7 linked regions of the Homo sapiens genome follow. The protein of the gene in region 7 purifies or fractionates together with the protein of the main gene of each other region. This does not show direct contact. Each region holds a gene or a part of one and is shown on either strand. Other genes may lie near its edges. The genes, in order: NUP160, NUP43, UFSP2, NUP85, UTP20, MYCBP2 and CLSTN2.

Region 1 (3,500 bases), on a different chromosome or scaffold from region 7:
TAGCACTTTAGAATTTGGAAGTTCTCTGACATTAGTTTTCAACCCCTAAATTAGCACATCAGAATAACTTATTAAAATACAGATTATGAGAAATCACCCTAGTCTTCTAAGTTAGAACTTCTGCATGATTCTAATGCTTGATCAGGTTTGAGAACCAGTGTTCTGAACCAGTTTCTTGTTTTAGAAATGCAGAAACAAAGGAGTTAAATGAATTATGCATTAATAGCCAAACAAATAACGTTCATTTACTAAATATGTTTGTTTACTAAATACTAAATACGTTAGTGGGAGAGGAATATACGAACCCAAGACATCTAGTTTCTAGTGCTATCCCCATAAGTCACATTAGCCCAAATAATATTTGTTCCCATTTAGCTATATTATTGATTCAGTTGTTAATTTCTAAAGTTTTCCTTGTAAGGCTGGGCATGGTGACTCCTGCCTGTAATCCCAACACTTAGGGAGGACAAGGTCAGAGGATCACTTTAGCTCTGGAGTTTAATACCAGCGTGGACAACATAGCAAGTCCTTGTCTCTACAAAACATAAACAAAATTAGCTGGGCATAGTGGTGCATGCCTGTATTCCCAGCTATTTAGGAAGCTGAAATGGGAGAATCTGGGGCTGAGGCTGCAGTGAGCTGAGATCACACCACTCCACTCTAGCCTGGGTGACAGAGCAAGACCCTGTCTGAAAAAAAAGTTTTCCTTGTAAATACATGCTTTGAATGGTACTCTAAATAGCTATTAAGAATCTGAAACTCATTAGTCATTTTTGTTTTTTTCAAGTGCTACAGATGAAGCATGGCGACTATTATCCACTTACCTGGAGAGGTACAAAGTCCAGAATAACTTGTATCACCACTGTGTAATCAACAAGCTCTTGTCTCATGGAGTGCCTCTGCCTAATTGGCTTATAAACAGTTACAAGGTAAACGGATTATAACTTGTACAGAGTAAGAACCCACTCTTTATCATTCTGGATAACTTCATGAGATGATTAAAAATATGGACTGATTGCAGTGGCTCATACCTGTCATGCCCGCACATTGGTAGGCCAACAGGGGAGGATGGCTTGAGCCCAGGAGTTTGAGACCAGCTTGGGCAACACAGGGAGACCCCATCTCTATTTAAATTTAAAAATATATAAAGAAAAAGAAAAAGATGGGGTGATAACTTATGGGAACATATTGACTTACGTACTTTGGGAAGCTTTTCATCATAGCTAAAACCATAAGAACAATTCAAATTCATTTCCACAGTACTACTGTGTATTTAGATTTGAAGTTTCATAGGTTAGTAATTAGGTTAATGACTCCTATTATATTCACTGAACAATGAGTTTATATTTAGAACAATGAGCATATGCATGACACAGGATTTACTCTTCATACCTCAAAAAAGTCACAGGAGTCGGTGGAGTACTTTTCAAATAATATAACACTATGGCTGGTCTGAGTGCCGTGTTGTTTACAACTAATTGAGCACAACCAGTTTCCGATTGGTTCCTTCTCCACTCCCACTGTTTCACCTATTAAAAATCAAAAACGGGTTCTTAGACTGTCTGCATCAGAATTATTCAGATGGCAGTCTTCTTCAAAATACAGATTCCTCATCCTAGACTTACAGAATCAGATTATCTCAGGCTAGGAGCCAGAAATCTACATTTTAAGAAGCTCCTAATTTGATTTTGATGCATGCTAAAGTTTGAGAACTTCTGCATCTGAACCACCGTTAGTAGGATAAGGAAAGAGAAAATCTAAAGCTTAAAATCAGGAAAGTTTTTTTTGGTTTTTTTTGTTTTGTTTTGTTTTGTTTTTTTTGTTTTTGTTTTTGTTTTTTTTTTAAGGTAGAAAGGAGGCCGGGCACGGTGACTCACGCCTGTAAACCCAGCGCTTTGGGAGGCCAAGGCAGGCAGATCACCTGAGGTCAGGAATTCGAGACCAGCCTGGCCAACATGGTGAAACCCCATCTCCACTAAAAATACAAAAATTATCTGGATGTGATGGTGCGTGCCTGTAATCTCAGCTACTCTGGAGGCAGAGGTTACAGTGATCTGAGGTTGCACCACTGCCCCCAAGCCTGGGCGACAGAGCAAGACTCTGTCTCAAAAAAAATAAATAAATAGGAAAGTAGGGAAGCCAGCTAAGATGGTAAAGGTAAGATTGTGATCAAATGGGAATATAGAAAGCATGCTTAATTAATAGAGCTCTTCCAAATAGAGACTTCAGATTTAAAGCTGGTGATTCTTTGAACTTCTTTTGCATTTGTCATTCATATATTTCTTATTATGTGAATATATTGTCACTTTAGTGTTCAGGAAAAGTTTGTTGACTTTACAACTGTGGAAACTGAAGTGGAGAGAAGTTAAAATATGTCTTAGGTCATAAAACAGGGGAAGAAGGCTATTTAACAGATAAGGGCCTCCCAAACTGCCTAGAGGTAACGGCTCTTAGGGATTTAACTTTTTTTTTTTCCTAACTCCCCAGATTTGTTATCAGCTCTTATCCTAAGATACAGATGAGTAAACCAAGCCACTGGTTTAATTATATTGAGAAATACAAATGTTAGGGAATCAGCCACTCAACATTCTTTGGTCAGTACTCAAGTAGGAGGGAAATAGGTACATATTCTTAATCACTGACTTTTCACAGAAGGTTGATGCTGCTGAATTGCTTCGTTTATACTTAAACTATGACCTTTTAGAAGAAGCTGTGGATTTGGTGTCAGAATATGTGGATGCTGTATTGGGAAAAGGACATCAATACTTCGGAATTGAGGTAGGCATATACAAATGGTCCCCAATTTACAATGGTTTGACTTACGATTTTTCAACTTTACAGTGGTTTGAAAGTGATGAACATTTATGAGAAACCATACTTTAAAATACTGATGGCCGGGCACAGTGACTCATGCCTATAATCCCAGCACTTTGGGAGGCCGAGGCAGACAGATCACCTGAGGTCAGGAGTTCGAAACCAGTTTGGCCAACATGGCAAAGCCCCGTCTCTACTAAAAATACAGAAATTAGCCAGATGCAGTGGCACGTACCTGTAATCCCAGCTACTCAGGAGGCTGAGGCAGGAGAATCGCTTGAACCTGGGAGGCAGAGGTTGCAGTGAGCCGAGATCATGCCACTGCACTCCAGCCTGGGCAACAGAGCGAGACTCCATCTCAAAAATAAATAAATAAATAAATAATAAATAAATAAAATACTCATACAACCGTTCAGTTTTTCAGTTGCAGTACAGTATTCAATAAATTACACAAGATATTCAACAGTGTATTATAAAGTAGGCTTTCTGTTAGATGATTTTGCCCAACTTTATAGGTTAACGTTAAGTGTCCTGAGCATGGTTAAGTAGGCTAGGCTAAGCCGTGATGTTCATTAGGTTAGATGTATTATATGTATTTTCAACCTATGATATTTTCAACTGATAGTGGGTTTATTGGAAAACAAACCCACCATAAGTTGAGGAACATCGGTATAGGCGCATATATA
Region 2 (3,500 bases), on a different chromosome or scaffold from region 7:
ATCTCAGCACTTCGGGAGGCCGAGGTGGGCAGACCACTTGAGCCCAGGAGTTTGACACCAGCCTGGGCAACATGGTGAAACCTCGTTTCTACAAAAATTAGCTGGGCATGGTGGTGTGCATCTGTAGTCCCACATCCCTGGAAGGCTGAGGTGGGAGGATCGCTTGAACCTGGGAGGCAGAGGTTGCAATGAGCTGGGATCATGCCACTGCACTCCAGCCTGGGTGACAGAGCAAGACCCTGTCTCAAAAAAAAAAAAAAAAAAAAAAAAAGTAATGCAACTTAACTCAGAAATGAAAATCATAATAAACAACACAAAAGGCCAGGTACAGTGGCTCACGCCTGTAATCCCAGCACTTTGGGAGGCCGAGGCAGGCGAATGACAAAGTCAAGAAATCAAGACCATCCTGGCCAACATGTTGAAAGCCTGTCTCTACTAAAAATACAAAAATTAGGTGGGTGTGGTGGCGTGCGCCTGTAGTCCCAGCTCCTCGGGAGGCTGAGGCTGGAGAATCGCGTGAACCCAGGAGGTGGAGGTTGCAGTGAGCTGAGGTCGTGCCATTGCACTCCAGCCTGGTGACAGAGCGTGACTCCATCTAAACAAACAAACAAACAAAACACACACATACAAAATGGATTCATGGGCTCAATTCCTAGAGATTCTGATTTAAAAGGTCTAGAGTGGTCGACAGTTAAAAAATTTCCTCAGAGAAGTCTGGCTGAAGCATAGTTCAGAACCAATACACTTAGTTTTCCACCTAAAAGATGTAACTTCTGTGATTTTGCATTACAGACTCTTTGCAATCTGGCCCCAGCTTACTTCTCTCTTGCTTCATCTTTCATCTCTCCTAAATAAATATCTAAAGTCGGGTCAAACTATACTTTTTGTCATTCTCTGAATGTCTTTATCCTGCCTCTGGCCTATTCCCTTTGTCTAGCACGCCATCTTTTAGTATTACTTATGGTCTAGAACCTAGAAAAACTATTAATTACTACCTGCTTCCAGATGTTTTATCTGATAATGCCCTCTCACCAAAAAAAAAAAGGTTTCTGTTTCCTCTAGTCAGTCATTCATACTGGTCTCATCAACATACTGTCTTGACAAAGGGATCCTGCCTTGCGTTGTGTGTGCACATGTGTACATATATTTTATATTTTTTTGAGACAGAGTCTTGCTCTGTCACCCAGGCTGGAGTGCGGTGGCATGATCTCGGCTCACTGCAGCCTCTCAGTCTCTCAGGTTCAAGCGATTCTCATGCCTCAGCCTCCCAAGCAGCTGGGATTACAGGCCTGTGCCACCATGCCCAGCTAATTTTTGTATTTTTAGTAGAGATGGGGTTTTGCAATATTGGTCAGGCTGGTCTCAAACTCTTGGCCTCAAATGATCTGCTCGCCTTTGCCTCCTAAGGTGCTGGGATTATAGGCGTCAGCCACTGTACCCGGCCATATATTTTTACATCCCTCCATCACTTAACATTGTGTTTACTTTTTTTTTTTAGATGAAGTCTCTCTCTGTCACAAGGCTAGCGTGCAGTGGTGTAATCTTGGCTCACTGCAACCTCTGCCTCCCGGGTTTAAGTGATTCTCCTGCCTCAGCCTCCCGAGTAGCTGGGACTACAGATGCACACCACCTCACCCAGCTTATTTTTGTTATTTTCAGTAGAGACGGATTTTCACCACGTTGGCCAGGATGATCTTGATCGCTTGACCTTGTGATCCGCCTGCATCACCCTCCCAAAGTGCTGGGGTAACAGGCATGAGCCACCGTGCCTGGCAGTATTTACTTAGTATATGGTAAGTGCTCAATTACTCTGATGGATGAAAGGAGTACAATGATTTTTCTTTTTTTGAAACAGGGTCTCCCTCTGTCACCCAGGTGGGACTGCAGAGTGCCATCATAGCTCACCACAACCTCCACCTCTCAGGTTCAAGCGATTCTCCTGCCTCAGCCTCCTGAGTAGCTGGGATTACAGGCATGCGCCACCACGCCTGGCTAACTTTTCTTTTTTTTTTTTTAAACAGAGTTTCACTTTTGTTGCCCTGGCTGGAGTGCAATGGTGCGATCTCTGCTCACTGCAACCTCCGCCTCCCAGGTTCAAGCGATTCTCCTGCCTCAGCCTCCCAAGTAGCTGGGATTACAGGCATGTGCCACCATGCCCAGCAAATTCTGTAGTTTTAGTAGAGACGGTGTTTCTCCATGTTGGTCAGGCTGGTCTCGGACTCCCGACCTCAGGTGATCCACCTGCCTCGGCCTCCCAAAGTGCTGCAATTGCCGGGGTGAGCCACCACACCCAGCCTAACTTTTGTATTTTTAGAAGAGACTAGGTTTCGCCATGTTGGCCAGGCTGGGATTTTTCTTACCTATGGTTCTTACAGCTTCCTTGTGATCAGCTCTGAAGAGATTTATTCGACCATCCTCTCCAACTGTAACGATTTCTGGGTTGTTGCACACAACACCTGTACATGGTGCACTGCTATAGGAAGGACTGCCAGGGCCTGTGTGGTAGTGAGCTGTAGTCCACTGCTGGTTGACTGACAGAGTCTAGGCATCAGAAATGAGGATACTATTAAAGCAAAGTACTAAGGAATTAGCACTTCTTCCCAACAAGAGTATCTTTAAATTCTGACTCACACCCTTCTACAAGAATAAATCTCTCCTTTTTCCTTTAGAATAATGAAATCTAGAAACTACTGCCATCAAAGTTCTATATACACTGAATTAGATACAAAAGGAATATTGTTTAATAATGCCCCACATTTATCTCAAACTACAGTAATGACTTTTAGGGATCAAGCAGTTGGATGTTCAAAGGCAACTCTTTGTATTCTTATGGGAATTAACCTACATCTAAAATATACATATCTGGCCCACGGCTGTCGCTCATGCCTGTAATCCTAGCACTTTGGGAGGCCAAGGCAGGCAGATCATCTGAGATCAGGGGTTCGAGACCAGCCTGGCCAATATGGCAAAATCCCGTCTCTACTAAAAATACAAAAATTTGCTAGGTGTGGTGGCACGCGCCTGTAATCCCAGCTACTTGAAAGGCTGAGGTGTGAGAATTGCTTGAACCAGAGAGATGCAGGTTGCAGTGAGCAGAGATCGCACCACTGCACTCCAGCCTGGGTGACAGAGAGAGACTCTGTCTCAAAAAAAAAAATAAATAAATAAAATAAAATAAAATAAATAAAATATTAATCTCTATAGCTTTTTCTAAATGACTCAAAAAAACCCTTAACATGAACTGGGACTTATATTAACTAGGCATGTCTATTAGAAAAGGTTACCTTTGGCTGGGCGCGGTGGCTCACACCTGTAATCCCAGCACTTTGGGAGGCCGAAGAGGGCTGATCACCTGAGGTCAGGTGAGATCAGCCTGACCAACATGGAGAAACCCCGTCTCTACTAAAAATATAAAATTAGCCGGGCGTGGTGGCACGTGCCTGTAATCCCAGCTACTTGGGAGGCTGAGGCAGGAGAATCACTTGAACTCAGAAGGTGGA
Region 3 (3,500 bases), on a different chromosome or scaffold from region 7:
GTTATGACAGAGTCATGACTTACGAAGCTCAGCTGAGTGACCGTTTCCTCTTTTTAATACTGTTCTCAGCTCTTTAAATGTTTGAACATAGCTACCATTTCTCAGCCTTTACTTCTTCTGGTTATTATAATCTTTTTTGTAACCTTTAAGCCACCTTAGAAATTTTTTTCAATATCCAGAGATCCATACATATGGTGTAAAAGTTAATTTCAAAATTTTTTAAATGACTGATTTTATGCAACATTAAATATTTATATCAATGATAAGTTTTGCATATTACTCACTCTACCAAAAACAGTGTCTGAAACAGCTTACCGATCATAACTGGAGTTCCTTCACTTTGGAAATGATTAGCCAGTTCCCGTCCTTGAGAGGCAATTTCTGAACCTTGGCTAGAAAGAAACCATTTTCTATCAGATGAACTACTTCCAACACTACGGTCAAATAATGAGCTAGGAGACAATGTTTCCTACTTTCTTGTTTTTTCGGGTGTTACTGAAAAAATATATAAATGTAAAAAAATTAAGTGTTAGGGAACTGAGAGCAATTAAACTGTGCAATTTAAAGCAACATAAACTCAAAATACTTAAGGCCACCAAGTGTGCTAGATAAGACGCTAAAAGACCTTGATTTTCTGCTTCTTGAACTGTATAAAGGAGGCCTGGGTTTTTAACATGAAGTTAAAACATCACCTTGGTGCTCAGGGAGTTCTTATGGATGGATTAATCAGAAGAATGAGTGTTAAGTCCTGGGTTCTTGCCTTCTTGCTGGTAGACTTCTTAGTCTGTATTTCCTCATCTTTAAATTGGGACCCAAAACGCTGACCTGTCTACATAACAGAGGAGAGTCTAGGCCTAAAATACATGTCTGTGAAATCAATGTGAAAACTGCAAAATGTTTTCAAGTGCAACATACTATTTTTAGGGAATCTCAGAATTTTTACTTTTGAAAAGAGAAAGATAGATGGGATAATGAAGGGAGGTATTTTTTGGGGGAAGGTGCCCGGTGGTGCTAAACCTTAGCTCTTGCTTAATGAGGAACGTATGTTTTAATGTACCAAAACTGTAACTTTTAAAAAAAGTTCTTCACTACTTAAGTCTGTCATTGTTTTATATTATTATTATTTTTTGAGATGGAGGCTCGCTCTGTTGCCCAGGCTGGAGTGGAGTGGCGCGATCTCAGCTCACTGCAACCTCCGCCTCTCAGGTTCAAGCGATTCTCCTTCCTCAGCCTCCTGAGTAGCTGGGATTACAGACGTGTGCCACCATGCCCGGCTCATTTTTATATTTTTAGTAGAGACAGGGTTTCACCATGTTGGCCAGGCTGGTGTCAAACTGCCAACCTCAGGTGATCCACCCACCTTGGCCTCCCAAAGTGCTGGGATTACAGGCGTGAGCCACTGTGCCCAGCCAGTCTGTCATTTTTTTACCACTGATTTCCATAACCACTGAGGAAAGGATAAAATTACATCTTTAACACATAAAAGATACAATGAGGACGATGTTACTGTAATTAACAATAGAAAATGTATTTTATTTGTTTTTTGGCTTTTCTTTTTTTTTTTTTTTTTTTTTAGAAAATGTATTTTTCTGTTTTTTTTTTTTGAAAGGGAGTCTCGCTTTGTTGCCTGTGCTGGAGTGCAGTGGCATGATCTTGGCTCACTGCAACCTCCACCTCCTGGGTTCAAGCGATTCTCCTGCCTCAGCCTCCCAAGTAGCTGGGATTACAGGCATGCGCCACCATACCCAGCTAATTTTTTTTGTATTTTTAGTAGAGACAGGGTTTTGCTCTGCTGGCCAGGCTGGTCTCAAACTCCTGACCTCAGGGGATCCACCCACCTCGGCCTCCCAAAGTGCTACGATTACAGGCGTGAGCCACTGCACCTGGCTAGAAAATGTATTTTAAAACATAAGCTCATACAATCAGGAGTCAGCTAGTTATGGTCATAGAAAATAATTAATTTATATTTTCTCATTTTAATATTAGAATTATGGTTAAGATCATTGGAAAAGACAAAATGAATACATTATTTGAACACATTACTAGATTATTAACGTTTTAGAAAGAAAAAGAGCAGGAGGTAAACAAAAAGGTCAGTCATAGTTCAACATTTGAGTTTTGCCTTTTAAGACTTTTTAAAAGATTGGAGCATAAAGAAACTGTTAATATAATTTTTATGACTTTACTCAACGTTAATATATTTTTAAGTTTTCCTCTTCTAGGCTAAAATTAGGCCTAAATAATACAAGTATACATTACATCACAAAGTTTATTCATAAAATCAGAGCCTTCCAAAAAAAAATGAAAAAAAATTAAGATTAAAAAATGAGATTTATAAAGCAATGAGTAATAAGGAAGAAGGAAAAGGAATAAAAAGAAATAAGGGAAGATACCATTTTTTCTATTATTTTAATTAAAATGACAGACTGTCACTTTGAAATGATTTATCTAATTTCTTAAAGTGTGCTTACCTGACAAACAGGATTTTTGACGTTATACCGATCAATTGGTTTAGTACCAGCTGCACCTCAATAGATCCAATCCATTGCCGCGATCCGACAAATGTTGCTGGTTTGTCCCCGGCATCGACTAGAGCCTTGATGTATTTAAAAATATAAAACATCCATACACAAGACAGCTATTAAAAACGATGTTTAGGGCATTTTCCCTGATTACCAGTACAAGAATTTTTTTTTCTTCAAAACAGAAATAAGTCTGCACCATGAGGTAACAAAAATTATCAATGGTATATTAAGGGCTAATGAAACATACAGTTGATTATAATTTAAAACGGTATGTTCTGTACCTGCTGAATTTCTCTGTGTGTTGGAATGGACCTCTCTGTGTATCCCTGATGTTTGAACCAAGAGCAGATAGTCTGCAGAGATCGATAAGCACAGCCCCAGCCATTGTCATCTATGCGATCCTGCATATAATGATGATAGCCATATATGCCCTGGACCACATAAATCTATATACAGAGAAGAAACACAGTAAAATATTAACTTAGGATAGAAGTACATATTCTATATATGCTCCCGAATTATGTTTAATGTTCTTAGAGTTAGACTGTTACTTTAGTTCCTTATAAAAATGCCTTCACAGATCTATGGTTTAACATTATACCTTCTTGGCTTTTTATTTGAGGTTCAAAGTCCTTACCACAGGGCCCAGCAGGACCTACCTTCTGGCCTCCTCTCCAATTTCATCTCCTAAACTTTTCCCTATTGCTCCCTCTACTTTCGGTTCCCATATACCAGGGGCAATATGACCTTGGAGCCTCATGGTTCTCTTGGCCTGGAACTCTCTTTTCCCAAATTAATTGTACAGCTTGCACTCTTACTTCACTCAGGTTTCCATTTAGATGTCAAAGGTCTTCCTTGACCATCCAGTCTACAAACGGCCCACTCATTCTCTCACTACCCCACCCCCTGCCTCACCTGTCATCTCTGTCCTCTTTATGTTTTTATTTTTCAAAGTATATCATGACTTGATATACT
Region 4 (3,500 bases), on a different chromosome or scaffold from region 7:
ATCGGTTATATATTGATTGGTTGAACAAAATATGACCAGAGGCTTGCAGGAACCTAACCCTGTATTTCCCCTAGGAGCAATGGTTCAATATTCACTAATTCAGTATTCAAGGCACTGCACTCCAGCCTGGGCAACAAGAGCAAAACTCTATCTCAAAAAAAAAAAAAAAAAAAAAAAAAAAAATCACAAATATATAAACATATACATACTGATAACTCCCAACTTTTCCTCTCTAGCCCAAACTTCCTTGTCTGAATTCCAGCTTTGTATATCCAAGTGCCTAGTCAACATCTCCACTTAGATCTTGAATAGGCATCTTAAAACGTAACATGTCGGACAGGCATGGTGCCTCACGCCTGTAATCCCAACACTTTGGGAAGCCAAGGAGGGTGGATTGCTTGGGCCCAGGAGTTTGAGACCAGCCTGGACAACATGGCAAAACCCCGTCTCCACTACAAATACAAAAATTAGTTGGACATGGTGGCACGCCTTTGTAGTCCTGGCTACTTGGGAGGCTTAGGAGGGGAGGATCACCTGAGCTTAGGCGGTCAAGGCTGCAGTGAGCTGTAATCTGACCACTGCACTCCAACATGGGCAACAGAGACTTTGTCTCAAAACAAACAAACAAACAAACAAAACAAAACACACACACACACGAGAGAAACATGTCTAAAATTAAATACCAGTTTGCCTCCAATTCACCAACCTTATCCTCCCACATTCTTCTATTTCTTGCATGCCCACATCAAATCAATCCATCAGCAAACCCCATCAACTCTCTTCAAACATATCTAGCCTACACCACCACCATCTTTTACCTGGCTTAGTACAGCAGAATCCAGACTGGCCTGTTTCCATCCTTGCTGTAGTCTCAACATGGCAGCCAGGACAGCCTTTGGGAACCTAAGTAAGATCTCAGGCTTCCTCTGCTCAGCTCTCCAATGCCCCCTCACCCCATATGGCTTAGAAGTAAAAGACTAGCTTTTACTGTGCATCAACCGTGTCAACTACTTCACCCACATTTATGTCCTTTAACTAATTTAATGATCACAACAGCCCCATGGGACAGGTATTATTATCTCCACTGGACAGATGAGGACCCTTAAGGCCGTTAAGTAGCTCACTCAAGATCTCACACCTAGTGACCGGGCACAGTGGCTCACACCTGTAATCCCAATACTTTGGGAGGCCAAGGCAACAGGACTGCTTGAGGCCAGGAGTTCAAAAAATAAAAAAATTTGGCTGGGCATGGTGGCTCAAGCCTGTAATCCCAGCACTTTGGGAGGCTGAGGCAGGCGGATCACTTGAGGTCAGGAGTTCGAGACCAGCCTGGCCAAAACAGCAAAACCCCATCTCTACTAAAAATAAAAAAATGAGCCAGGCAGGATGGCGAGAGCCTATAATCCCAGCTGAGATCGCCCCACTGCACTCTGGCCTGGGCAACAGAGTGAGACTCTGCCTCAAAAAATAAATAAATAAAAATAAAAAATAATTGGGTTAGCCGGGCGTGGCGGCTCACGCCTGTAAACCCACCACTTTGGGAGGCCAAGGCAGGCAGATCACAAGGTCAGATCGAGACCATCCTGGCTAACATGGTGAAATCCCGTCTCTACTAAACAAAATTAAAAAATTAGCCAGGCGTGGTGGCAGGCGCCCGTGGTCCCAGCTACTCGGGAGGCTGAGGCAGGAGAATGGCATGAACCCGGGAGGCGGAGCTTGCAGCGAGCCGAGATCGTGCCACTGCACTCCAGCCTGGGCAATAGAGCGAGACTCCAGCTAAAAAAAAAAAAAAAAAAAAAATTGGGATGGTGGGATGGAGGGAGGCAGGCAAATCACTTGAGGTCAGGAGTTCAAGACCAGCCTGACCAACATGATGAAACCCCATCTCTACTAAAAATACAAAAAACAAAACAAAACAAAACAAAAACCAGCTGGGCATCATGGCGTATACCTATAATCCCAGCTACTTGGTAGACTGAGACAGAACTGCTTGAACCAGGGAGGCAGAGGTTGCAGTGAACTGAGATAGCGCCACTGCACTCCAGCCTGGGCAACAGAGAAAGACGCCATCTCAAAAAATAAATAAATAAATAAAAACTTTAGCTGGTGGTGGTAACACATGTCTGTGGTCCCAGCTACTTGGGAGGCTAAAGTAGGAGGACCACTGGAGACCTGGAGGCCAAGGCTACAGTGACTGGTGATTGTGCACTGCAGCCTGGGGAACACAGTGAAACTGTATTTAAAAAAAAAAAAAAAGGCCAGGCATGGTGGCTCATGCTGGTAATCCCAGCACTTTGGGAGGCCAAGGTGGGTGAATCACAAGGTCAGGAGTTTGAGACCAGCCTGGCCAATATGGTAAAACCCCATCCCTACTAAAAATACAAAAATTAGCTGGGCATGGTGACGCGCGCCTGTAGTCCCAGCTACTCAGGAGGCTGAGGCAGAAGAATCACTTGAACCCCGGAGGCAGAGGTCGCAGTGAGCTGAGATGGCGCCACTGCACTCCAGCCTAGGTGACAGAGAGAGACTCTGTCTCAAAAAAGGAAAAAAACCCACCTCACAGCTAGTAAAAGGCAGAGCTGGAATGCTAACCCAGGCAGTGTGGCACCACAGACCATGTTGTTAGTCACCCTGCTATGTAGGCTGCAAAAAGCTAAAGTCTCAGTGACAGCCCAGGGGGCTGTCTCAGACCTGGCCTGGTATCGCTCTGTCTTTATCTCCCCAGCTCATCCCTCCCACCTACCCCTACATAGCACAGCCCCTCCTGCCCCACCCTGGCTCTAGAACACAGCATCTACAGGCCCTGCTATCTGGAATGCTTTCTTCAGCCTAGCTCTCCTCACCTCCTTCAGGTCTCACCTCCAATCTCTCATGAGGGAGGCCTTCTTCGATGCCCCTCCAGCACTTGCAGCCTCCCTCCCTTCTTGGCACCTTGGCAGAGCATTTCACTATGTGCCAGGATACATGGTACTAGCCTATGTGTTGCTGTTCTTTCTCCACACACAGGATATAAACTCCATAAAGGCAGGAATCTTTGCCTGTTTTAGTCATGGTGTCTCCTTGGTGCCTTGCAAATAGTAGGGACTCAATAAATACTCAGTGAATGACCAGGAATGGTGGCTCACACTTGCAGTTCCAACACTTTGGGAGGCCAAGGTGGAAGGATTGCTTGAGCCCAGGAGTTCAAGACCAGCCTGGGTAATACAGTGAAACCTCACCTCTACAAAAAATAAAACTAGCCAGGCGTAGTGGTGTGCGCCTGTAGTCCCAGCCACTCAGGAGGCTGAGGTGGGAGGATTGCTTGAGCCCAGGAAATCAAAGGTGCATTGTGCCATGATCGCATCACTGCACTCCCGCCCAGGCCGCAAAGCGAAACCCTGTCTCTAAACGACAACAACAAACCTTAGCGAATCAATCAGAGACTCAAACATTTGGCCCACTACTTCCTGTGAGCCACCGTGCCGGGCCGAATTCCAGGTTTTCTTTTCTTTTCTTTTTTT
Region 5 (3,007 bases), on a different chromosome or scaffold from region 7:
ATGTTTCTCACATAAAAGATGATGCTTTATCCTCAACATAGATTAAATAGTCAAAGAAAACTATGGTTCAGGGTAGTTTTAAACCTCATAGCACAATGAATAATAATGAATAATAAAATGTCATTACATTCTCATCTTAAAAATTATAGGCTGGGCGTAGTGGCTCACGCCTGTAATCCCACACTTTGGGAAGCCAAGTTGGGAGGATCACTTGAGCCCAGAAGTTCAAGACCAGCCTGGGCAACATGGCAAAACCCCATCTCTACAAAAGATACAAAAATTAGCTGGGTGTGGTGGTGCACAACTATAATTGCAGCTACTTAGGAGGCTGAGGTGGGGGGATCTCTTGAGGCTGTGAGGTCGAGGCTTCAGTGAGCCGTGATTGCACCACTGCACTCCTGCTTGGGCAACAGAGTGAGATACTGTCTCAAAAGAAAGATTATATGGCAAAAATATAAGTATTATCATTTTTATATGAAATAGTTTTAAAATATCATTTTAACATTTCTTCTTTTTCCTTGCCTGATACATTTCCCTCACTTATTCTAATTGTTGGTAATAACAGGTAAAGAGGGAACTGGGGGCAGGAAGGAAAGGAGGTAAAGTGAATGTTCAGAGTTTGAAAATAAAACAAATGAAGCAAATGTCAAAGCAAGAGCTTTTACAGTCCTACAACCTTGGGAGAAAGTTTCCTCACTCTTACAAAGGAAAAAGCAATGGTAAAGGTTGAGGCTGCTGACAAAAGCAGGTTCAGGTGTGCTTTGGTTCAACCCAGTCAACATTTAATGAGCATCTAATATCTGCCAGGCACTAGGGATTCAACAGCAGGAAAGTTTTCAAGAAGCTTGTGATCTAGAACAGATGTCCTGAGCTCCTGTGAAATTGAAATTGGGGGTTATTTGTATATAGGGGTGAGTGGCAGAGAAGGGTGGGAGAAATGGCTTTTTTGTCAACTTCACAAAGGAGGCTTTTGACACTCCCCCGCCAAAAAAAAAAAAAAAAAAGTTACTGTGGGCAGAGCTAAGCCTCTGTGACCCATCATGGATTAGAGAGGGAATCTCTTACTTTTCCCCCCATCTGCAAGAGCTCAACAGGTAAACAGAGGTAATTCAAAACGTTTCTGTCAAGGTCCCAAGTTACTTTAATGTCTTCAGGGCCAGGTTTCCGCTGGGAAGTGGGCCTCATGTTCTCTGATTTCTTATTGCATCCTGGGTGAGGTGGTGGCTGGAGTGCTATGTCTAGCATTGCTGGTTTCCCCATCCCAGGAACATAGAGGCTAGTTTTATATCAGTGTTTAATGTTGAAGTAACAGTGATAATGCTGCAAGAGTTGAAATTTTGTTTTGTTTTATTTGGGGTTTCTTGCCAGATCAGTAGCTGGATATAAATGTTGTACATATTGTTGATTTTGTTGATGTTCAAATGTGTCCTTTCCTACCTGTCTCTGATCATTACTCTTTGTGTGTGATTAGATCCTTTGCTGAAGAATCTATCCCAGGAAATCATAGAATTACTCAAAAAGCTGGTTGGGCTTGAGAGCTTCTCATTAGCCTTTGCCTCTGTACAGAAACAGGCTAATGAGAAAAGGGCACTCCGGAAAAAGAGGAAGGCCCTGGAGGTAAGTTTGCTCTTTGAAAATATGGCATGTTCACTGGACTTGATAACTACTAAGTGTGCATGTTTGTGTCACACTTACACTTAGGGAGGATCAAGGGTTTGAGCGGTTGGGGACTTTATAGCTGGGACTTCAGATTTTCTTTAATGAGCATGTGTTTTTTACATTTATTTCTGTATTTGATTCTTATTGGTTTAACATTTACTTTAAAAGTAATATAAAATTTCTATTCTCTTTTCCAGTTTGTAACTAATCCTGATATTGCTGCCAAGAAAAAAATGAAGAAACACAAAAATAAAAGTGAAGCAAAGAAGAGAAAGATAGAGTTCCTGCGTCCAGGATATAAGGCCAAGAGACAAAAAAGCCATAGCCTGAAAGATTTAGCAATGGTGGAGTAATGTCTCCCTGTGCTGATACAAGCATGAACTTTCTGGAATATTCTGCTAGTCTGAAATTACAGTAGGTTGTCTGGGGTAGGGGGGAGGCGTTTTTTTTTTTTTTTGAGACAAGGTCTCACTCTGTCACCCAAGGTGGAGTGCAGTGACGACATCACAGCTCACTGCAGCCTCAACCTGGGTTCAAGTGATCCTCTCACCTCAGCCTCCCAAGTAGTTGTGCCTCCTAGGCACACAACACTATGCCCGGCAAATTTTTTGTATTTTGTATTTTTTGTAGAAACAGGATTTCGCCATGTTGGCCAGGCTGGTCTCGAACACCTGGGCTCAACTGATCCGCCTGCCTCGGCCTCCCAAAGTGCTGGGATTACAGGTGTGAGCCACCCTGCTCAACCAGGTTTTATTATTTAAGTTAGTTAAACTTTGGATAGATTGTATAATATATAGTTTAATGTAATCATGCTCATATTTTTTAAATAAATAAAACACTATACTACTGCTGGGTCTTCACTGTTTAAAAAGCATGTGACACTAGTCAGAGTTTAAAATATAATTTGTAAATAAAAGGATACATTTTTAAATAGCAAGAAAAAATGTAGAAGTTAGCAATTAATCAAACAAAAGATTTGCAAATACTGCTCTATAGTACTTGCTAAAATTTTAGGAAAAGGCAGTAAGAAAGATCTGCACAAACGGAACTATAACCATGTTCTTGGCTAGGAAGATTCAGGATCATAAAACGCTACTTCTTTTTCCCAAGTTGATCCTTTGGTTAAATGTGTATCTGAGCAAAATCCCAAGAGTTCTTCACGTTAACCCAACAAGCTAATTCTAAAATGTATATGGAAGATGATATTAAGCCAAGAATAACCATGACACTCTCACAAAAGTAGAACAGGATGAGGGGCTTGCCCTATTGGATATCAAAAGTAAGACACAAAAACTATCTATAGAGAGAACGTGTAATAAATCCTACTTCATTAAGAACTTCTGCTTAG
Region 6 (3,500 bases), on a different chromosome or scaffold from region 7:
CTCCCAAAGTGCTGGGATTACAGGCATGAGCCACTGCGCCCGGCCTCAATCAATGTTTATTTGACAAATATATTCCCCATCTTAATGTCTGGATACATTCAATACTTTAAAAGCTGAGGCAACCTGAATGGCTGGTGCTGCCGAGAGCGCTTCGGTGAAACATATCATGCACATGTCATCGGCGTCTTGCTTCAGGCTTGTGGCACTTTTGTCACAGCCGTGTAGACAGGGCAGACAGTGCTCTTCGTTTTTAACACCCCCGCATGGATGGCCACAAGGATGCGTCTTACTACAGGCTATCTTAGCGTATTCCTGTTAAAGATGAATTACAATGTTACACAAGTATGTAAAAAAGCACACATTCTGGTAATTTTCCTTATTATATAAATTTCCAAAGATTACTTTCCCACAGGAAGTATCTATGCAGGCCAAGTAACAACAAAGTAAAGTTATTTCTAATCTTTGTTTGAATATAAATTAGGCTTCTTAACAAAGTTTTTTTTTTTTGATGCGATTTTTAAAAAATGCCACTCTCTATAAAGGGAATGCTGATAAGTGAATTATAATTTCATATTTGTCATCATGCACAGCTATAAAGCAAAAAGTTCCTGGCTGGGAGTCGTGGCTTACACCTGTAATCCCAGCACTTTGGGAGGCTGAGGTGGGCAGATCACGAGATCAGGAGTTTGAGACCAGCCTGACCAATATGGTGAAACCCCATCTCTACTAAAAATACAAAAATTAACCAGGCATGGTGGCGCGCGCCTGTAATCCCAGCTACTTAGGAAGCTGAGGCAGGAGAATCGCTTGAACCCGGGAGGCGGAGGTTGCAGTGAGCCGAGATCGTGCCACTGTACTCCAGCCTGGGCGACACAGCCAGACTCCGTCTCAAAAAAATAAAAAATAAAAAAAGTTCCCCAATGTATAATTTCCCAGTCACCACTCTCCGCATCACCAAAATGCAGATTTTTTTTTTTTTTAAAAAGGTACCTTTGACTCTCTGAGCATATCCACATTCTTATTAATTGAGAAACCAAAAACATTTGGACAACATAGAATATGTTTATATATGTTCAGGATTAAAGAACTCTTAGATGTTGAAAATGTATTTTAAGGAAATAAGTGAATAATGTCTGTAAGAGATAAAGGAAATACAGTTCATAAATTTTTAACTGTTTCTAGTACAAAAGTAGATATTAAATACATATGATCATGGTAACTGAGAAACATACAAAAAGAGTGTGGTTTGGGCTTGAGAGCCTTATTTGACCCATTCTTCAACTTTGGTAAGGCATTTGATGCTTCACATAGGTAATACACTCATTTAGGAAGCTGGAGTGACGCTGAGCTAAAACTCTTTTCTGTATGAAGTAAAGGTGTCACAGGGGAACATGGACAATGGGATGGCCTGTGTCACTATATACTCACCTGGCAATCTGCATCAGAACAAACACTGCCAACAGCAGATAACTCTGTTCCACTCCTGGAACCACAGAAGCGACATGCTTCTGAGCTACTCGTGGTGGGTTTGCCTAGGTTCAAGCAGAAAAATAAAAATCCTTCTTATGGATGTTTTCTAGATATGTTAACAGAACTAAATTTTAAAAAGCAAACTAGGTTTGTATAAGTTGCTATCCTTGGGAAATCAGCCTGACAGTTTTAGAACGGAAGGTTTCTAAGTTGTCCTAATTATAAAGTAAATAATGACACACAAAAAAAGAAATTAAAGACCTATCTGAAGCCAAATACACTCTCGACTAATATTTTTTTTCAGTGAAAGAAACAGACTAGACTTCTAGTCAAGTTACCAGACTGAGCAGCTGTTACAAGCCCCTGACTCCAAATGCACAATACCATAAAAAATATGATAACCAAAAATTAAATAAAAATACACAGAAGTTAGGGAAATCTTTAACTATATATAACAAAATTATAAGGCATGGTATAAAGCCTATCATCAGAGTATGAAACTTGAAAAACAGAATTCCTACCTCAGGAACTCTGCAATTTGAAAAGGAATTTAAATATGTTTGAAATACTTAAAGAAGAAACAGAATCAATAAAACAAGAACAGAGCAATAAGAAAAAGAACGTGAAGATTTGAAAATTACAGACCAAGCTGATTTTTAAACACAGATATAAAAATCTAACTATAATTAATATCAATATATTGAATTCAGCAATATTTACAGAAAAATCTATTTAAAAAGGATGGTTTACAAGGATGGTTTGACATTAGAACATTTATTAATGCAGTATACAGCACTGACAGATTATAGGAGGAAGAAATCAACTATGAGAAAAGAAGGTCATGCTCTTGCAGCATGCAAAGTCACCCTAGAATTAAATTGATTCGGATTTACACCTAACTCCAACACTGGAAGTTCGTGTCAGTCAAATGGCAGACTGCAGATGTGCTGAAAACTGAGAATTTGTAAGATTCAACATAACTTTGAACTAGGAATATACAAGATTTACTTTAGAAAAGCAGCAAAATGAAAACTATGTTTTAGAGATAAAAATACATTTAACATACATAGGTTACCTTTTGTTTTATGTCTATTCATTTTTGTTAATTATTTTATTGCTATCAATGGAAACAGTACCATTCACAACACCTTCAGAAGCATTAGGTCTACAAAAACCTCTAAATATCATAAAATCATACAACCTTATAATAAATAGAGATCTTAGTGATCATCTAGTGCAGCAATTTTTATTGTGGGGCAACAACTAGCAGAACTAGAAGGGAATTATCAATAGAAATGTATTTTATCTATGGAGCCCCATTAGTTGTGATCCTCTCACTTTATAAATGAAGTCAATGAGTTCCAGAGGTTAAGTGACTTGCTCGACACCACACAGCTAGTTAGTGGCAAATCAGGTTTCTTGACTTTTGGTCTAATGCTCTCTTCACCATAGAACACTCTATATATTTAGTAAATATATAGATCAATGATGTCATAATTAAACATCAGAATATCACTCAAAATTATTCACAGTTTAATCAGTTGGCACGGTTTAATCTTTTTTTGTGGGTTTTAAAGGCATGGCTCAATCTTTAAACCTTTTACCTGTGTGTTCTCGGAATTCCACCATTGCCTTCATTGTTTTAGAATCTGCCAGTGCCATCAACCAGAACAATTTGGTTCTACCACAACCTTCATGAAGGTCAACCTTTATAGCTTCTTCTTCTTCTTTGAAGACCTATTATTTCATTAAAGAACAGGGAAAAATATGCTTATTTATCACTCTGAAAGGGAGAGTATAAAATTTAATTATTCAATAATAATAATGGCTTTCATTTAAGCACTCTAAGAAGTTTTGAATATTTCCAATCTTCTCTTTAATCTTCACAGCAGTCCCTTTTTTATAAATGGAGAAATTAAGTGTTTCTAAGGATAAAACAACTTGCTATTTATAGATGGTAAGCGAGACAGCTGTGAACTCAACCAAGGTCTTTGATTCCAAAGTCCACTTTTTCCCCCTACTACACAAAG
Region 7 (3,500 bases):
AGTGTCTGTTAGGTGCATACCTATGAACATAAGTAGAATCCTGCACCAGGAGTGGAAGTTGGGGAGACTGGTCTTGTCTATACTTTTGAATGACTCTGAACAAGACATTGAATCACGAAGCCTCAGTTTACTCATCACAAAAATGTATCTAACAACAGATGTCTCAGTTACTTCACAGGATTTGTTGTGAGGTCCAAAGGAAGGAACAGATGCAGAAAACACTTTAGGAGGTGGGAAAAGCTTCACAAGGTTGTTCTCATGAATCAGAAAGTTGAAAAGACCTGCCATGGGTCCTCCCTGGGTGGAGGTCAGACTAGAGGACATTGGCAGTAGTCCCCTTCTTAAGCTGTTTTGATGACACAAAGAAAAGGCTGAGATTCTGAACTATTTTTTTTTAACATAAATGCCACTTAACTAGGGACCAGCTCTGTGCCTGTGCCAAACCAATTGGTGTGAGCTTGAGGAGGAGTGAAGGATGGGGACAGAGCATACACATTGATGACAAAGAGGAATCAGACATTCGAAACAAACATGTTCTCAGAGCTTCGTGGAAATTCTGTCAAGGCCCTAATTCTTGCCTGCTATTCTCTTGGCCACAAAAGATCACAGACCAGTTACTATAGAAACAATTCTCTTCACAGGTTGTGCATGTTAGGATGGAGATGGAAAAGATTTCCTTATCAAAAAAAGAAAGAAATTAGGTTTTCAGATATATTTGCCCTCTATCTAAAGTGTTCCTCCTTTTATGAGCAGAAGAAAGAAGAAGCTGCAATGATTGCAAATATGCTTCTAATTCCTTGCAGTTAAATTTCAAACTTTCATTGTAGACTTGGTGGAGCTCGTGCGTTTCTAATACATGCAGAAAGCGTGTATTTTCTCAAGAGGGAAGATAGGAGATAAGGGACCATAAGGCTGAGTGGTGAGAGCCTTGCCAACCTCAGGGTCCCCTCTGTCCTGGGGGAGCCCAGCCACCCCCACTCCACCCACCATGAAGCCTACGTTTGACCTCATTAGCATTTCCATCTGCTTTCTGGCTCTAGGCTTGTTGTGACTGTCCTTGTTGTGTGTTGTGTTGTGTCCTTGTTGTCCTTGTTGTGACTGTCCTTGTTGTGTTGTCCTGGGGCAGTGCCTGTGTGGAATGCCTCCTGGGCCCTGTGGTTCTGTTTGCTGAGTGCCCCTGGCAGGGTAGCTGCATGGTTGCAGCAGGTGCCCAGACAGGCAGGCTCAGATAGCTCTGATGGGGGATCAGACCCTGCTTGTGGCCAAGGACCTATTCTTGGTTTGGGACTTTTCTTATAAGCTTATATGGCCTCAGAAAGAAGCAAGGGGAAAGGCTCTCCAAGCTGGGGAACTAGATAGACAGAGAGAGAGAGAGAGAGAGAATGTGTGTACCTTTCCCTGTAAACTTAGTTCTGCCTCAACAAGGACTTTCCTTTAAACTGTTAAGCACTAAGACCTTACGTGTGTGAAGTTCAACCACCCTCCTTGTATGAAGCAACCTGGAGTCAGCATAGGAGAACCTACTGGTCTGTGTGGAGGAGACGCACAGTGAGTTGGAACCCCAGGGCCTTGGGGACTCTGAGCCTGGGGAGGTGAGTGACACAAAGGTGGGCCTTCTTCCCTGCAGGAAAAAACAAAGGCAAACTCTGCAGACAGGTAGTCAGGATGCTGGGGAACTTAGGGCAGAAGTGGAGGCTACAGGACAAAGTCTACCCTGAAGTCCTCACTGATGGCCATGCTGGGCTTCTTGGAACTTCCCCATGGATGAAACACAGGGAGTGCCCAAGGCTTAAAGGGTGGGCTCCAGGAAGCTGGAGAAGGCCTTCCCAGACATGTCACAGACATCAGAGGTGAGGTATGATAGACATGGGCATACACTGGGTCAGGGTTTACAAAAGGGACATGTGGGCCAGGCAGCAGACCCCTGGGCACTAGTAGGGGAGGGTGGAGTCATCCCACTCCAGCTGGGCTTGCCTGGCTCCATTCTGCCCATGTCTGCCTCTGCCCATCCCTTCCTCCTCCTCCTCCTCTTCGCTGTCGTCAGAGCCACTGCTGGAGCTCATTTCTTCCTCGGCTTCTTCCTCCTCTTCTCCCTCAGTCTCATCTTCCCCATGCCCTGGTCCTTCATGTTTCTGGATATCAAGGAGAAAAAGCAAATGCTCATCAGGGGCTGAACAGAGGCCATTTTGGAGCTTATGTCTCTCCATCCATTAAGGAAACATTTACGGCCCCTTGGAATTTCTTCTTTTAGTGCAAAACTCTTCAGCCTGGAGACAGACTTCCTGGAAGGGAAGTCTTCTGGTAAAAAGGAAGCTAGAAGGTTCAAGGCAAAAGCCTGAAATAGCAAATTCCAAGGCATGAACTCAAGGTAGACTGTTGGGTATAAATGATGGGCTGGACATTTTAGCCAATCCTATCCATCATTTACTGAACCTTTCAGGCCAAGGCTTGTTTTCAGGCATTTCTGGAGCTTATTTAAATGGAGCTGTCCAAGCCTTAGTGTTTGCTTCTCAGTGAGAGGATGACATTTGATCTTGTGTCTCTTTTCCAAGTGTGCATGCAATGTCCCTGGGAGCAGAAGGCATTCTAAGCAAAGACTCAGGTATGCTTCCCCTCAAAAATATTCCTTTGGAAAGGACAAATTTATTGGTCCTCACTTTCCATGCTTGCTGCTCACCCCCTGACTTGTGTCCTCAGGCTGTACCCCTTCCTTTCCAGTCCAATTCCCCCTCCCTCCAGCTTTTGGATAATTCCAGCAAAATTTCATTTCTGGATTTATGTTCTGCATTGATGAACCAGGTCATAAAAGTTGTTTCTCCTTGCTTGGCTACCCAACCCCTCCCCTTACACTTCTTAGGAATTGTCTTTTACCTCCTACCTTCTACCTTACCCCAAATCCTACCCACTCTTCAAGGTCTCCCCTAGGCCAACCTCCTCCAAGGAATCTTCCCTGATTGTTGCAGTCCTGAAGGCTTTTCCTCCTCAAGGTCATTGACTTTTGACATCACAAGGTTGGCCCTTGTTAGGCACACTCTTGCCTTGTCCTCACACTGCTCCAGGTATAGTGGTCTTGTTTTCTACACTCAAGGCTCAGCTCTTTGAAGGTGGAAATTCTGGAGTCTGTATAGCACTGAGCTCAGCATTTTACCTACAGCACATGCTTGGAGGAACTGAGCCACATCAGCACACTGGCTTTGGAATTGGAGTGTGAGGCTAGCCGAGGTGGAAACTGGGGACCAGGCTGGGGTAATCATCTTCCCCTACCTTTTCTAAGCCTGTGTCTATCATCAACCAGAACCCATGGGCAAAGGGCATGATGTAGAGGGCTTCCTTTGACACTCATGGATAGATTCTGGGGGCTGTTGGCTAACTGGAAAGATACAGACTTCAGAATCAGATAACCTTAAATTTGACTATTGGCTGTGTTAATTTGAGTATGTTACTTCTTTTCTTAGTTGGTTTCCACCTTGGTAAATGAAGATGATAACTCCTATTTTATT

The links.
Region 1: the proteins of CLSTN2 (region 7) and NUP160 purify together in Homo sapiens (affinity purification with mass spectrometry; one large-scale study listed by BioGRID and IntAct). This does not show direct contact.
Region 2: the proteins of CLSTN2 (region 7) and NUP43 purify together in Homo sapiens (affinity purification with mass spectrometry; one large-scale study listed by BioGRID and IntAct). This does not show direct contact.
Region 3: the proteins of CLSTN2 (region 7) and UFSP2 purify together in Homo sapiens (affinity purification with mass spectrometry; one large-scale study listed by BioGRID and IntAct). This does not show direct contact.
Region 4: the proteins of CLSTN2 (region 7) and NUP85 purify together in Homo sapiens (affinity purification with mass spectrometry; one large-scale study listed by BioGRID and IntAct). This does not show direct contact.
Region 5: the proteins of CLSTN2 (region 7) and UTP20 purify together in Homo sapiens (affinity purification with mass spectrometry; one large-scale study listed by BioGRID and IntAct). This does not show direct contact.
Region 6: the proteins of CLSTN2 (region 7) and MYCBP2 purify together in Homo sapiens (affinity purification with mass spectrometry; one large-scale study listed by BioGRID and IntAct). This does not show direct contact.

Annotation. Positions count from the first base shown.
Region 1 is NC_000011.10:47,782,351-47,785,850, reverse strand, and holds part of NUP160 (nuclear pore complex protein Nup160), read left to right. Parts: intron 1-787; coding exon 788-929; intron 930-2,652; coding exon 2,653-2,778; intron 2,779-3,500. UniProt on the Homo sapiens protein: Functions as a component of the nuclear pore complex (NPC). Involved in poly(A)+ RNA transport.
Region 2 is NC_000006.12:149,740,030-149,743,529, forward strand, and holds part of NUP43 (nucleoporin Nup43), read right to left. Parts: intron 2,542-3,500; coding exon 2,361-2,541; intron 1-2,360. UniProt on the Homo sapiens protein: Component of the Nup107-160 subcomplex of the nuclear pore complex (NPC). The Nup107-160 subcomplex is required for the assembly of a functional NPC.
Region 3 is NC_000004.12:185,405,465-185,408,964, forward strand, and holds part of UFSP2 (ufm1-specific protease 2), read right to left. Parts: exon of another isoform or gene 2,972-3,500; coding exon 2,807-2,971; intron 2,597-2,806; coding exon 2,472-2,596; intron 496-2,471; exon of another isoform or gene 393-495; coding exon 316-392; intron 1-315. UniProt on the Homo sapiens protein: Thiol-dependent isopeptidase that specifically cleaves UFM1, a ubiquitin-like modifier protein, from conjugated proteins, such as CD274/PD-L1, CYB5R3, DDRGK1, MRE11, RPL26/uL24, TRIP4 and RPL26/uL24.
Region 4 is NC_000017.11:75,219,179-75,222,678, reverse strand, and holds part of NUP85 (nuclear pore complex protein Nup85), read right to left. Parts: intron 1-3,500. UniProt on the Homo sapiens protein: Essential component of the nuclear pore complex (NPC) that seems to be required for NPC assembly and maintenance. As part of the NPC Nup107-160 subcomplex plays a role in RNA export and in tethering NUP96/Nup98 and NUP153 to the nucleus.
Region 5 is NC_000012.12:101,384,112-101,387,118, forward strand, and holds the end of UTP20 (small subunit processome component 20 homolog), read left to right. Parts: intron 1-1,471; coding exon 1,472-1,617; intron 1,618-1,856; coding exon 1,857-2,012; 3' UTR 2,013-2,507; downstream 2,508-3,007. UniProt on the Homo sapiens protein: Part of the small subunit (SSU) processome, first precursor of the small eukaryotic ribosomal subunit.
Region 6 is NC_000013.11:77,058,095-77,061,594, forward strand, and holds part of MYCBP2 (E3 ubiquitin-protein ligase MYCBP2), read right to left. Parts: intron 3,208-3,500; coding exon 3,075-3,207; intron 1,533-3,074; coding exon 1,429-1,532; intron 313-1,428; coding exon 124-312; intron 1-123. UniProt on the Homo sapiens protein: Atypical E3 ubiquitin-protein ligase which specifically mediates ubiquitination of threonine and serine residues on target proteins, instead of ubiquitinating lysine residues.
Region 7 is NC_000003.12:140,564,685-140,568,184, reverse strand, and holds part of CLSTN2 (calsyntenin-2 precursor), read right to left. Parts: intron 2,133-3,500; coding exon 1,932-2,132; 3' UTR 1-1,931. UniProt on the Homo sapiens protein: Postsynaptic adhesion molecule that binds to presynaptic neurexins to mediate synapse formation, and which is involved in learning and memory.